2 separate regions of the Homo sapiens genome follow, and region 2 is linked to region 1. The links come from fine-mapping of genetic effects on gene expression. A gene starts in region 1. The other region holds a variant in brackets. All regions are shown on one strand. Distances are between the middles of the regions.

What was found. PIP is the estimated chance that this variant, and not a neighbour inherited with it, causes the effect. A credible set is the group of variants that fine-mapping cannot tell apart.
Region 2: its variant is the best candidate, but not a certain one, in a credible set for the expression of NPTXR in whole blood (TOPMed, PIP 0.53).

What each region holds. Positions count from the first base shown.
Region 1 is chr22:38,842,001-38,847,371 of GRCh38, reverse strand. It overlaps NPTXR (neuronal pentraxin receptor), which reads left to right and starts at 3,344. Exons shown (of 5, transcript NM_014293.4): 1 at 3,344-4,137. The coding sequence starts at 3,514. RefSeq lists a silencer at 3,756-3,825.
Region 2 is chr22:38,760,779-38,766,149 of GRCh38, reverse strand. No RefSeq gene overlaps it. Among named protein-coding and RNA genes, the nearest start is that of SUN2, 7.5 kb to the right of the region's middle. RefSeq lists enhancers at 4,580-4,629, 5,230-5,279, 5,110-5,371. The variant G/C (reference allele first, on the strand shown) is at 3,219.

The sequences.
Region 1 (5,371 bases):
GCGCGCACCACTACCACCTGGCTAATTTTTGTATTTTTAGTAGAGACGGGGTTTCACCATGTTGGCCAGGCTGGCCTAGAACTCCTGACCTCAAACGATCCACCCGCCTTGGCCTCCCAAAGTGCTGGGATTACAGGCATGAGTCACCGCTCCCGGCCCTCTGTTATCTCTTTGTAACCCAGTCTCCAGACAACTGCCAGAGTGGTCTTTTAAAAACACAGTCCAGGTGATATCACTTCCGTGCTTCAGCCCTCCAGTTGGGCTTCGAGTCAGACCCACTCCCTTCCCGGAGCCTGTAAATCTCTACACGGCCCCCACCTTCCTGTCCAGCTTCCTCCCTCCCCTACATCTCACTCTGCCTCTAGCCCCACTCTGTTCCTTCTGTTCCTGAAATATATTACGCTCCTTTCTGCCCCAGGGCCTTTGCACTAGCGGTTCCCTCTGCCTAGAACACACCATCTTTCCCCAGACTTCTGCATGGCTGGTTTCCCAGGTCATTTAGGTCTGAGCTCCAATGCAGGCCTTTTCTGACCACCTTATAAATACTGCCCACCTCCCAATTCCCCCTTCCTACTTCCTGTAACTTTCTATAACATCACTTGAAGATTTTTCTTTGTCATTCTCATCATTATTGGAAATTAACTTGTTTACTTAGTTATTCATTTGTTTACTGCCTGCCTCCCCACTGGAATATAAACTGCGTGAGCTTGTCTTGTTCCCAGCTCTCTCCAATGCTTGGCACTATGCCTGGCACAATGTAGGTCTCAAAACATATTTTCTAAAATGAATTCCTATATTTGTTATATATGGCAGAATTCCCTTGGCCTAAGAATGGAATGAAAGTGAAGAAATTTAAAAAAAAAAAAACTAGGAGTCATGACAATTCAGAGGGAAAATATAGGAACTATTCCAGTTTTAGGGAAGTTCCCCTGAGAATACTTCTCTGCCCATCCCTTGAGGAATCCTGTGTTAGGATTAAGGGGGGTCTCTCCCAGGACCCAGGAGAGACGAGTTTTGGGACTTCTCTGTCCTCTCCTCCTTCCTCTGCCTCCAGCAGTGGCATTAGGAACTAGTTCAGCAAACATTCACCGAGAAGCTTCCCTGGGCAGGCTTCATGCTGAATGCTGGGGATAGAGATGGGCCAAGGAAGAAGGGAGAGGCTGGGCGCCATGGCTCACGCCTGTAATCCCAGCACTTTGGGAGGCCGAGGCAGGTGGATCACCTGAGGTCAGGAGTTCAAGACCAGCCTGGCCAACATATTGAAACTCCATCTCTACTAAAAATACAAAAATTAGCTGGGCGTGGTGGCGTGCACCTGTAGTCCCAGCTACTTGGGAGACTGAGGCAGGAGAATTGCTTGAACCCGCAAGGCAGAGGTTCCAGTGAGCCGAGATCACGCCACCGCACTGCAGCCTGGGTGACAGAGCAAGACTCTGTCTCAAAAATAAAATAAAATAAAAAATAAAGTCATTCTAGGAGATCAACAGACCAGTTTAAACACAATTTGACTCCAGCCTCTGGACCCATTTATCCAAACTGTCCCCAAAGTCTCAGGGGGCAGCTCAGGTAAAGGTGGCACCATTTGGTGCCCAAGTCACAGTGGCTCTGCTGCTCTTGGCAGCAGCCCTCTCTCTTGGCATCTCCTGTCCTTCCCTGGACTTCCTATGACAGTTTCTCCTGGGGATGCTATCTCCGTGTTTCTGTCTTCACGGCACACGTGTAGATGTACCAGGAGTCCCGATGTCTCATGCATCCCCAGGACTTTAGCAGGGCCTACCGCTGGCCTTTGCCTTCCAAGAGCCCAGCCCATCTCTCTGTCCATGAGATGCTTCCTCCAAGCCCAGCTGCCTGCCCTGGGTTTTGAGGTTACGACTTCAGTGAGCACCAGCACACATCCACGCACACACAGCACTCAGGTTCCTGGCATACAGCGCTTGTGTTTGCTTCTCTCCTCTTTCACAACTCAGGTATGGATGAAAATCCCTGGCTCCTAGAGATGGGTGAACAGGGTGGACATCATCCTAACATGTGTGGAGAGAGGGAGGTGGAGCACGTGTGCCTGGGAACACTGGACAAAATCCCCGTGGCTGGAGAGCGTCCCCCAGGGTTGTGGCTTCCTGGGAAACATTCCGGTCTCTCCCCACCACCAGCGCTATGTGAAGTACACTCGAAACCACAGTGGTAGCCGTGGTGGTCCAGAGATCCTGGTTTGCGCTTTCCCTTCAAGTCAAAAATGCAGGCTTGGAAGGGAGACAGAGCTGGGAATAACCACAGCCCTCCCAAGGCCCTTCCAGCCCTGGGAATCCGTATTGGTCAGGAAAGACCTCATGGAAAATTGGAGCTGGGGATAAAGTGTGGAGGATAGTAGGATTGTTTTTAAGTTTTTAATTGCAAAGTTAATTTTCAACAAAATATATATAGACATTTTTGACAGAAGAAAGTAAAACGCTCCTCTGCCACCCCCACAGCACAGCCCACTCCCATTCCTGCTGTTCCTTCTGGGCCTGGTCCACATGCCCACCAGGCACGTGGCACCGCTTGCCAACGAAGGCAGACTGCAGTGGGGGTGGGGGGTTTCTCTGGACCTGTGAGGCTCTAAGCCCCCAAGGATTCAGAGGAGAGAATTTCCATCATCCTCTGAGATCACAGGAAGATTCTGTAATGAGGGTGGCGGGGAGTGAACTCTGCTCCTTCAGAAGGTTGGAGGTGGGGGTGACGGGCAGGTGGCCACAGTATAAACAGAAGTTAGGTCAAAATCCGAGCCTCCCCCCAACCCCCAACACTGGCCTCTTCTCCACCTCTAACCGCTCCCACTCCAGCCCCATCCACAGTCTGGTCCGGTGAAACGTGCCTAAGCTCGCAGGCGGCTCCAACGCAGCCACCCGGTGACCTTGGACAGAGGCCTGACCTCAGGTGTCTCAGTTTCCTCATTTCTATTGTGAGCCTGTCCACGGCAAGGCTCAATTGCGACCGAGCTTGTGGCGCGCCCAGTGCACAGCCCCACCCGGAAGAAAGCTCCCTCCCGGGTGGATGTGAACATAACCGGCTTGGGGAGGGGGCCCGAGCACGGGAGGGCTGGGATGGGGGTCACCCAGGAGCCCCGCCGCGCGGCCCTCGGGTCGCCGGCCCCTGCGCTGTGACCGCGGCGAGATAAGGTCCCAGGCGCTGCCCTCGCTCCTCGCCGCATCCCCGGCGGCGCCCCCAGCCGGGCGCCCGGCACTGAACGGGTGCGGGGCTGGGCCGGGGCCAGGGCCGGCCCGGGGAAGCGAGTGGGGCGGGGCCGCCGCGCCCGCTCCCCCTCCCCGCCGCCTGCCGTCTTCTCCTCCTCCCGCCGCCCGGGCTCAGAGCGGCGGCAGCAGCGGCCGCGGCGACAGCTCCAGCTCCGGCTCCGGCTCCGGCTCCGGCTCCGGCTCCCGCGCCTGCCCCGCTCGGCCCAGCGCGCCCGGGCTCCGCGCCCCGACCCCGCCGCCGCGCCTGCCGGGGGCCTCGGGCGCCCCCGCCGCCCGCCTCACGCTGAAGTTCCTGGCCGTGCTGCTGGCCGCGGGCATGCTGGCGTTCCTCGGTGCCGTCATCTGCATCATCGCCAGCGTGCCCCTGGCGGCCAGCCCGGCGCGGGCGCTGCCCGGCGGCGCCGACAATGCTTCGGTCGCCTCGGGCGCCGCCGCGTCCCCGGGCCCGCAGCGGAGCCTGAGCGCGCTGCACGGCGCGGGCGGTTCAGCCGGGCCCCCCGCGCTGCCCGGGGCACCCGCGGCCAGCGCGCACCCGCTGCCGCCCGGGCCCCTGTTCAGCCGCTTCCTGTGCACGCCGCTGGCTGCTGCCTGCCCGTCGGGGGCCCAGCAGGGGGACGCGGCGGGCGCTGCGCCGGGCGAGCGCGAAGAGCTGCTGCTGCTGCAGAGCACGGCCGAGCAGCTGCGCCAGACGGCGCTGCAGCAGGAGGCGCGCATCCGCGCCGACCAGGACACCATCCGTGAGCTCACCGGCAAGCTGGGCCGCTGCGAGAGCGGCCTGCCGCGCGGCCTCCAGGGCGCCGGGCCCCGCCGCGACACCATGGCCGACGGGCCCTGGGACTCGCCTGCGCTCATTCTGGAGCTGGAGGACGCCGTGCGCGCCCTGCGGGACCGCATCGACCGCCTGGAGGTGAGCGCCGCGCGCCGTCGGGGGAGCCGCCCGGGTGGTGTGAGGGGCCGCCCGGCCGCGGTCGTCCGGCGGTCCCCGAGCCTCCGGTCTCCCGTCTGTGTTCCGGGGACGATCGCGCCTTCCTCGCTGGCGAGGCGGGGGGATTTCGATAGGGAACGCGGGCAGGCGTCTGGCACGGTGACTGAGGCACAGAGGGCGCGCCAGAAAGATTCGCTCCCCACCCTTTTCCGTCTCCAGGCACCTCTCTGAGCCTCAGTTTCTGTGTCTGTAAAATAGGTATAACAGTGTCCACTTGTAGTGGAAATTGAATCAAATGTAGGTGTGTGAAAATGCTTGGCACGTACTAGGACCTCATTAAATGTCCCTTTCATTTCCTTCTTCCGGACACCCCCAAATCAGCCCAGCTCCACGCTCACACTTTATGGCCAGGAGATGGATGCGCTGTCCAAAGGACTTGGGGTCCTCCCCTCATTACACAGAGCCGGGAACAGAGTGCCCTATAAGACAAACCTGGGTGCCCCTCACCACCTCCCTACCCTGAATCTCCCACTCTGGCTCAGACTATGACCCAAACCGCAGGAGCTCAGGTGCCAGGCGCCCAGCCTCACACACCTGGAAGCCCACAGCTCTTGGGTGGGGGCTGAATGGAGAACAGGGCCCCCCGAGCTCCTCCTCCTCCACTCACTTTTCCAGGCTTTCCTGACTCAGGCTTGGGGTCAGACACAAGGGGTCCAGCATGGGGGAACCCACTCTTGGCTCTCATGTGACCCTGGGCCAGTCATTTCCCCCCTGGAGTCCCATGGCCACCTTCCTCCCTGTAAGAATGAATTTGGGGCTCCCAGAAGTGCAAGGCAGACAGACTGGGCAGGACAAACATCCGGGACACATTCACTACCCCAGCCATGGCCTGACTTCCAGACCACAAGGAAGGGGGTTAAGCAACAAAATCAGATCTGTGGAAGGAAGAGAGAGAAAGAGGCCAAAGCCCGCGCTGCCCCCTCTGCTACCTCCACCCAGGTGGAGTGCAGCAGGCAAGTTGGAGGGAGGAGAGAGGCGGGGAGTAAATGCAGGGACCCCTTACTCCCGGGGCTTTTTAAGTTAAATCCTGGGCAAGCAGCACTGGTGATGCCCACTCACAAGGCTGAGGATGTCGTGGTCTGACAGCCCTCCAGGACGTCTGTACTGGTGTCAGCACCCTCCCCACAGGGTGTCAGAGTGCAGCCAGTCAGCCATT
Region 2 (5,371 bases), 81 kb after region 1:
AATCAATTTGCCCAGGGAACCCCAGTGTGTCAACCAGAGCAGAACAGCTCTAGTCGAAGTAGGGGGAGTCGGCAGGGATCCTGTCCTCAGATCTTAGGGAACATTCTGGCAAACTGCTGTCTGGCCACCTCCTCATTCTACCTGTGGGCCAGTGAGGCTCAGAGAGGTTTGGGCTTTGAGTAGTTGGTCAGAATGGCTGGCAAGCAACCAGCCCACCTACCTGTAGCCTGTCCTAGAGCACTGGATGAGAGCAGGGGCTACTGACTCCCAGCTCATTGGGTGGCCCCTGAGCCCCACTGAGCCCCACTGGAGTCCCCTGTGGCCCCTTCCCCAGGTTGACAGAGCCTTTCCCAATCTGAGCACTTCCAGGGTGACAGTGGCTGCAAGGGCTACATGGTGAGCCCCCCACTGTTACCCCAAGTGGCCTGGGGGAGCCCCTTTCCTACCTTTTCTCCAGGAACCTTCAAGGTCCCAAGGCCTAGCAGAGCTCCTCAGGAGTCTGTGTGTGTGTGTGTTTCGATGTATCCAAGTGTGTCTGTGTGTCTCTAATGTATGTGTGTCTATGTCTTTGTGTATCTCTGTATGTGTCTGTGTGGGGTGTGTGTGCACCTGTGTCTGGAGGTGAACAGAAACCCCTCTTCGTCTCTCCTGAGCGCTGAGAGAGCAGGTGAGAGCCTCCCCTGGGGTGTTCTGTCCTCTGTCACCGTCCATGACCTGGTGATGTCTATGAACCACCACAAGTGAGGTTCCCAGGACTTTAGACACAGACTCAGAGTCTTAGGCCTGGGGAGGGCCCAGGGATACTCAGCCCCACCCCTTCTTGATGCTAAAATGTGCGGCACAGATTATTCATTGAGTCATACTATTTTATTTTATTTTATTTTATTTTATTTTATTTTATTTTATTTTATTTATTTATGTTTCAGACACAATCTTGCTCTGTCGCCCAGGCTGGAGTGCAGTGGCATGATCTCGGCTCACTGCAACCTGCACCTCCTGGGTTCAAGTGATTCTCATGCCTCAGCCTCCCGAGTAGCTGGATTACAGTCGCCCACCGCCACGCCCGGCTAATTTTTGTACTTTTAGTAGAGATGGGGTTTCACCATGTTGGCCAGGCTGGTCTCGAACTCCTGACCTCAAGTGATCTGCCCACCTTGACCTCCCAAAGTGGTGGGATTACAGGCATGAGCCACCACACGCAGCCAAGTCATAATATTTTAAATGATTTTTTAAAAATCATTTGAAATAAAAATAATTTCATTTAACCTTCGTAGTAACCCCACAAACACTCTTGTCCTCTGAGAGGTGGGTGGCTGATGAGGTCCTGTAACGCATAAGGGGCAGCTTCTGTGGACGAGGTTCCACTCCCACACCTGAGGCATGGCTGGTGGGGTCGGGGTGGCCATCCTGCTGCAGGGACAGTCCCCTTCTAGTTCTCACCAGGGCAGAGGGTCACTGAGGCTGAGGCCAGGGTGGCTTCAGTTAGAGATCCCTGTGGCCCCGATACCCAGCGTCCTTCCTGAGGGTTGGGACAGCATCGTCCACCCCAAGGACTAAAAAGCAGGGGGTGTTTCCGGCCGGGCACAGTGACTCACGCCTGTAATCCCAGCACTTTGGGAGGCTGAGGTGGGTGGATCACGAGCTCAGGCATTCAAGACCAGCCTGGCCAACATAGTGAAATCCCGTCTGTACTGAAAATACAAAAATAAAAATAAAAAATTAGCCAGGCGTGGTGGTGGGAGCCTGTAATCCCAGCTACCCCGGAGGCTGAGGCAGGAGAATCACTTGAACCTGGGAGGCGGAGGTTGCAGTGAGCCAAGATTGCGCCACTGCACTCCAGCCGGGATGACAGTGCGAGACTCCGTCTCAAAACAAAAAAAAAAGCTGGGGGTGTTTCCAACAGCCAAAGCCGGGATTGTTTTTCAGCTGCCTGGGGTTCTTTCCCCAGCTGCCCAGCCTGGCATCTTTTCCAGCACAAGAGTGTGGAAGGAGGAGTGTCCCCAACCCCTGTCCGGTGGAGTAGTGTTGCCATCGGACGTGGACCAAGCCAGGCCTCCTGCCCACTGTCGCCAGCTTGACCTTCAGGGTCACTCTGCTTCACAGACAGGAGGACTCCCCAAAGACTGCGTGAAAATCAGCCTTTGTTTATAACACGCTCGCGAGGCTAATAATGAAAAATGAGAGAAGGTGGGGGAGCCTCCACCTCAGCTGCCCTGGTCAAGAAGCCTTGGACTGGCTGGGCGCGATGGCTAATGCCTATAATCCCAGCACTTTGGGAGGCCGAGGCTGGTGGATCAACTAAGGTCAGGAGTTCGAGACCAGCCTGGCTGACATGGCGAAACCCTGTCTGTACTAAAAATACAAAAATTAGCTGGGTGTGGTGGCACATGCTTGTGATCCCAGCTATTCGGGAGGCTGAGGCAGGAGAATCGCTTGAACCCGTGAGGCGGAGGTTGCAGTGAGCCAAGATTGTACCACTGCACTCCAGCCTGGGCGACAAAGCGAGACTCTGTCTCAAAAAAAAAGAAAAAAGAATCTTTTCCCCTCAAGTCCAACAGAGCTTAAAGGTGAAAAAAAAAAAAAAAAAAGGCCAGACGCGGTGGCTCACGCCTGTAATCCCAACACTTTGGGAGGCCGAGGTGGGCAGATCACAAGGTCAGGAGATCGAGATCATCCTGGCTAACACAGTGAAACCCCGTCTCTACTCTCTACTAAAAATACAAAAAATACAAAAAAAAAAAATTAGCTGGGCGTGGTGGCAGACGCCTGTAGCCCCAGCTACTCGGGAGGCTGAGGCAGGAGAATGGTGTGAACCCAGGAGGCGGAGCTTGCAGTGAGCCGAGATTGGGCCACTGTACTCTAGCCTGGGAGACAGAGCGAGACTCCGTCTCGAAAAAAAAAAAAAAAAAAAGAAAAAAAATCTTCCCCCAGCGGACCCAGTGGAGTTACCAGGATGTAATCAATTCCTCCAGAACAAGTGGTGACAACACGGGACACCCAAAAGAGACTCAGTGCCCGGGGTTCAGCCCAGGGGCTGGTTCATGGGCACCCTCTGCCTGGCACGTACCGGAATTCCAGCCCCCCAGAAGGAAAGCCGGCGTGCATCGTGGACACACTGTGTGTAGAAACAGTTCTGGCACTGTGAGCTGGTCTTCTTAGGGAATGGTGGGAATCCTCCCAAAATCCAGCTTCCCAGATGCCAGCCCAGGGCCAGCCTT[G/C]CAAGCAGGCCTTTGTCTCCAGCCTGCTACATTCATTCTTTTCTACACAGTTAGCGGGGAAGGAGGGGAGGGGAGGCCATGAGGCAGAGGGGCAGATAGAGGCCGTGTCACGGGGGCCTCCAGGCCATGGACTTGGCCGTGGGGCTGATGAGCCATGCACGGATGATCGGCTGCAGGCAGGTGGCCGGGTCCAGCCCCTGCTTCAGGAACATCCGCCTGGCAGCTTTGTGGAGGCTGGAGCGGAGAGGAGGGGAGGGGGCAGCCAGGAAGCTGCAGAAACCATCCAGAGTCAAGTTCAGGGATTGAAGCTCACTGGAGAAGAGGACAGCGTAGCAAGAGGCCCCATGGGGGCAGAAGGCCCGTCTGTCTTGGAGGAGGAGGCGGGGCTGTGCCAAGGGGGTCCCAGGGGGAACGGTTTGAGCCTGTGGGAGGGAGAGGGGGGCACAGGATCCAAAAAGCATGTCCTGGGCAGGACTTGGGTGGGCATGGGGTGGGGGCAGGAACCTGGCGCTGAGGGAGCTGAGGAGGGGTGGGGGCTGGCCTGGGGAGAGGCCAGAAGGAGAAGATTAAGAAATTGCCTGAATTACAAATCACCGCAGCCACCTTGGCCCTAAGAGCCAAGCCGTTGAGAATCAAACAGAGGAGGATGGGGTCACCGAGAAAAGAACCTGGGCACAGAAAAGGAGGCGAAAACAGGGGAGCTCCGAGCACCCCAGACTCAAAGAAGAGAGGGAAGACCATGACCCAGGGGACCCTCAGAGCCCGTGTGGCCCAAGCTCGGGAAGCCAGTCCAGGGAACAGAGGAGAGGTCGCCAGAGCAGGCATCAGTTCACACACAGACACACACTTGCACACACATTCACACAAACATGCACACACATTTACACACATATTCACACACATACACATTCACACATTCACACAAACATGCACACACATTCACACACATAATTCTCACACATTCACACACGCACACTCACACATTCACAGTCACACACTCGCACACACACATTCACACACACTCCCCACACACACTCCCCACACACACTCACACTCATACACACACACTTGCACACAGTCACACAAACATGCACACATTCACACACATAATTCTCACACATTCACACAATTCTCACACATTCACACACACTCGCACACATACATGCACACATACATTCACTTTCACTCCCACACACTACCCCACACACACATACATATTCACACACTCGCACACACATTCACACACACTCCCCACACACACTCACACTCATACACACACACATTCACACACTCTCATACATACACTCACACTCACACACACTCTCACCTTCTCACACCCACCTGGAGGTGAGCCTCTCCTGGACATGGAGGGGAGGGGACAGCCCTGGTCCATGGCTCAGTTGATCCTGCCCCACCGTCCCTCCCTTCAGCATCAACAAGGTGCCCTCTCCAGCCCACAGCTCCTGGCCACTATGCCCTACCGCAGAGCCACTTCCTGCGTCTCAAGCCCCTGAGGCCCCGGGCTGGCAGCCGCAGGCCGTCCTGCATATGACGCACAGGTGCATGGACAGGGCCCTGGGAGGTGCCGCCCGACGTGCTTGACTGCAGAGCCGAGTCAAGCCGAGCTGGGCAGCTGCCCACATGCAGCTATGTGCCATCAAGGCCACCCACCCAGACTCCCTACACCTGGATCCCTCTGGCTGTCGGGAAGCACCGTCCCCAGGGAAACAGAGGCACTGGGGGAGGGGCAGTGGGCACAAAGGAGGACTGAATGAACTGGGGTCCCAGGTTCAAATGCCCTCAGCCATAACCAAGGCCCACCAGCCCTCCGGCTTCCCTGGGGACCACCCTCAGTGACTCACTGCGTACAGGCTGCAGTGCTGACAGCTGGGTGCTGAGTGTCCCTGCATGGGAAGCACACAGGCCACACCCACAGCAACACTGCTGTGAGAACTGAAGGCCTAGAGGGTCCTCCCACCTCCTCTGCCTCCACAGACACCTGGCAGGGAAGGGAGCAGGACAATTACTCCCCCTGCTCTACAGACAAAAAAGCCAAGACCAGAGCAGGGGTTGGGGGCTGCAGCCCTGCAGGAGGGAGAGGTGGGTAGACCGGGGAGTTTTTACTGGGGTCGGGGGCACTCGGGTTGTGCTAT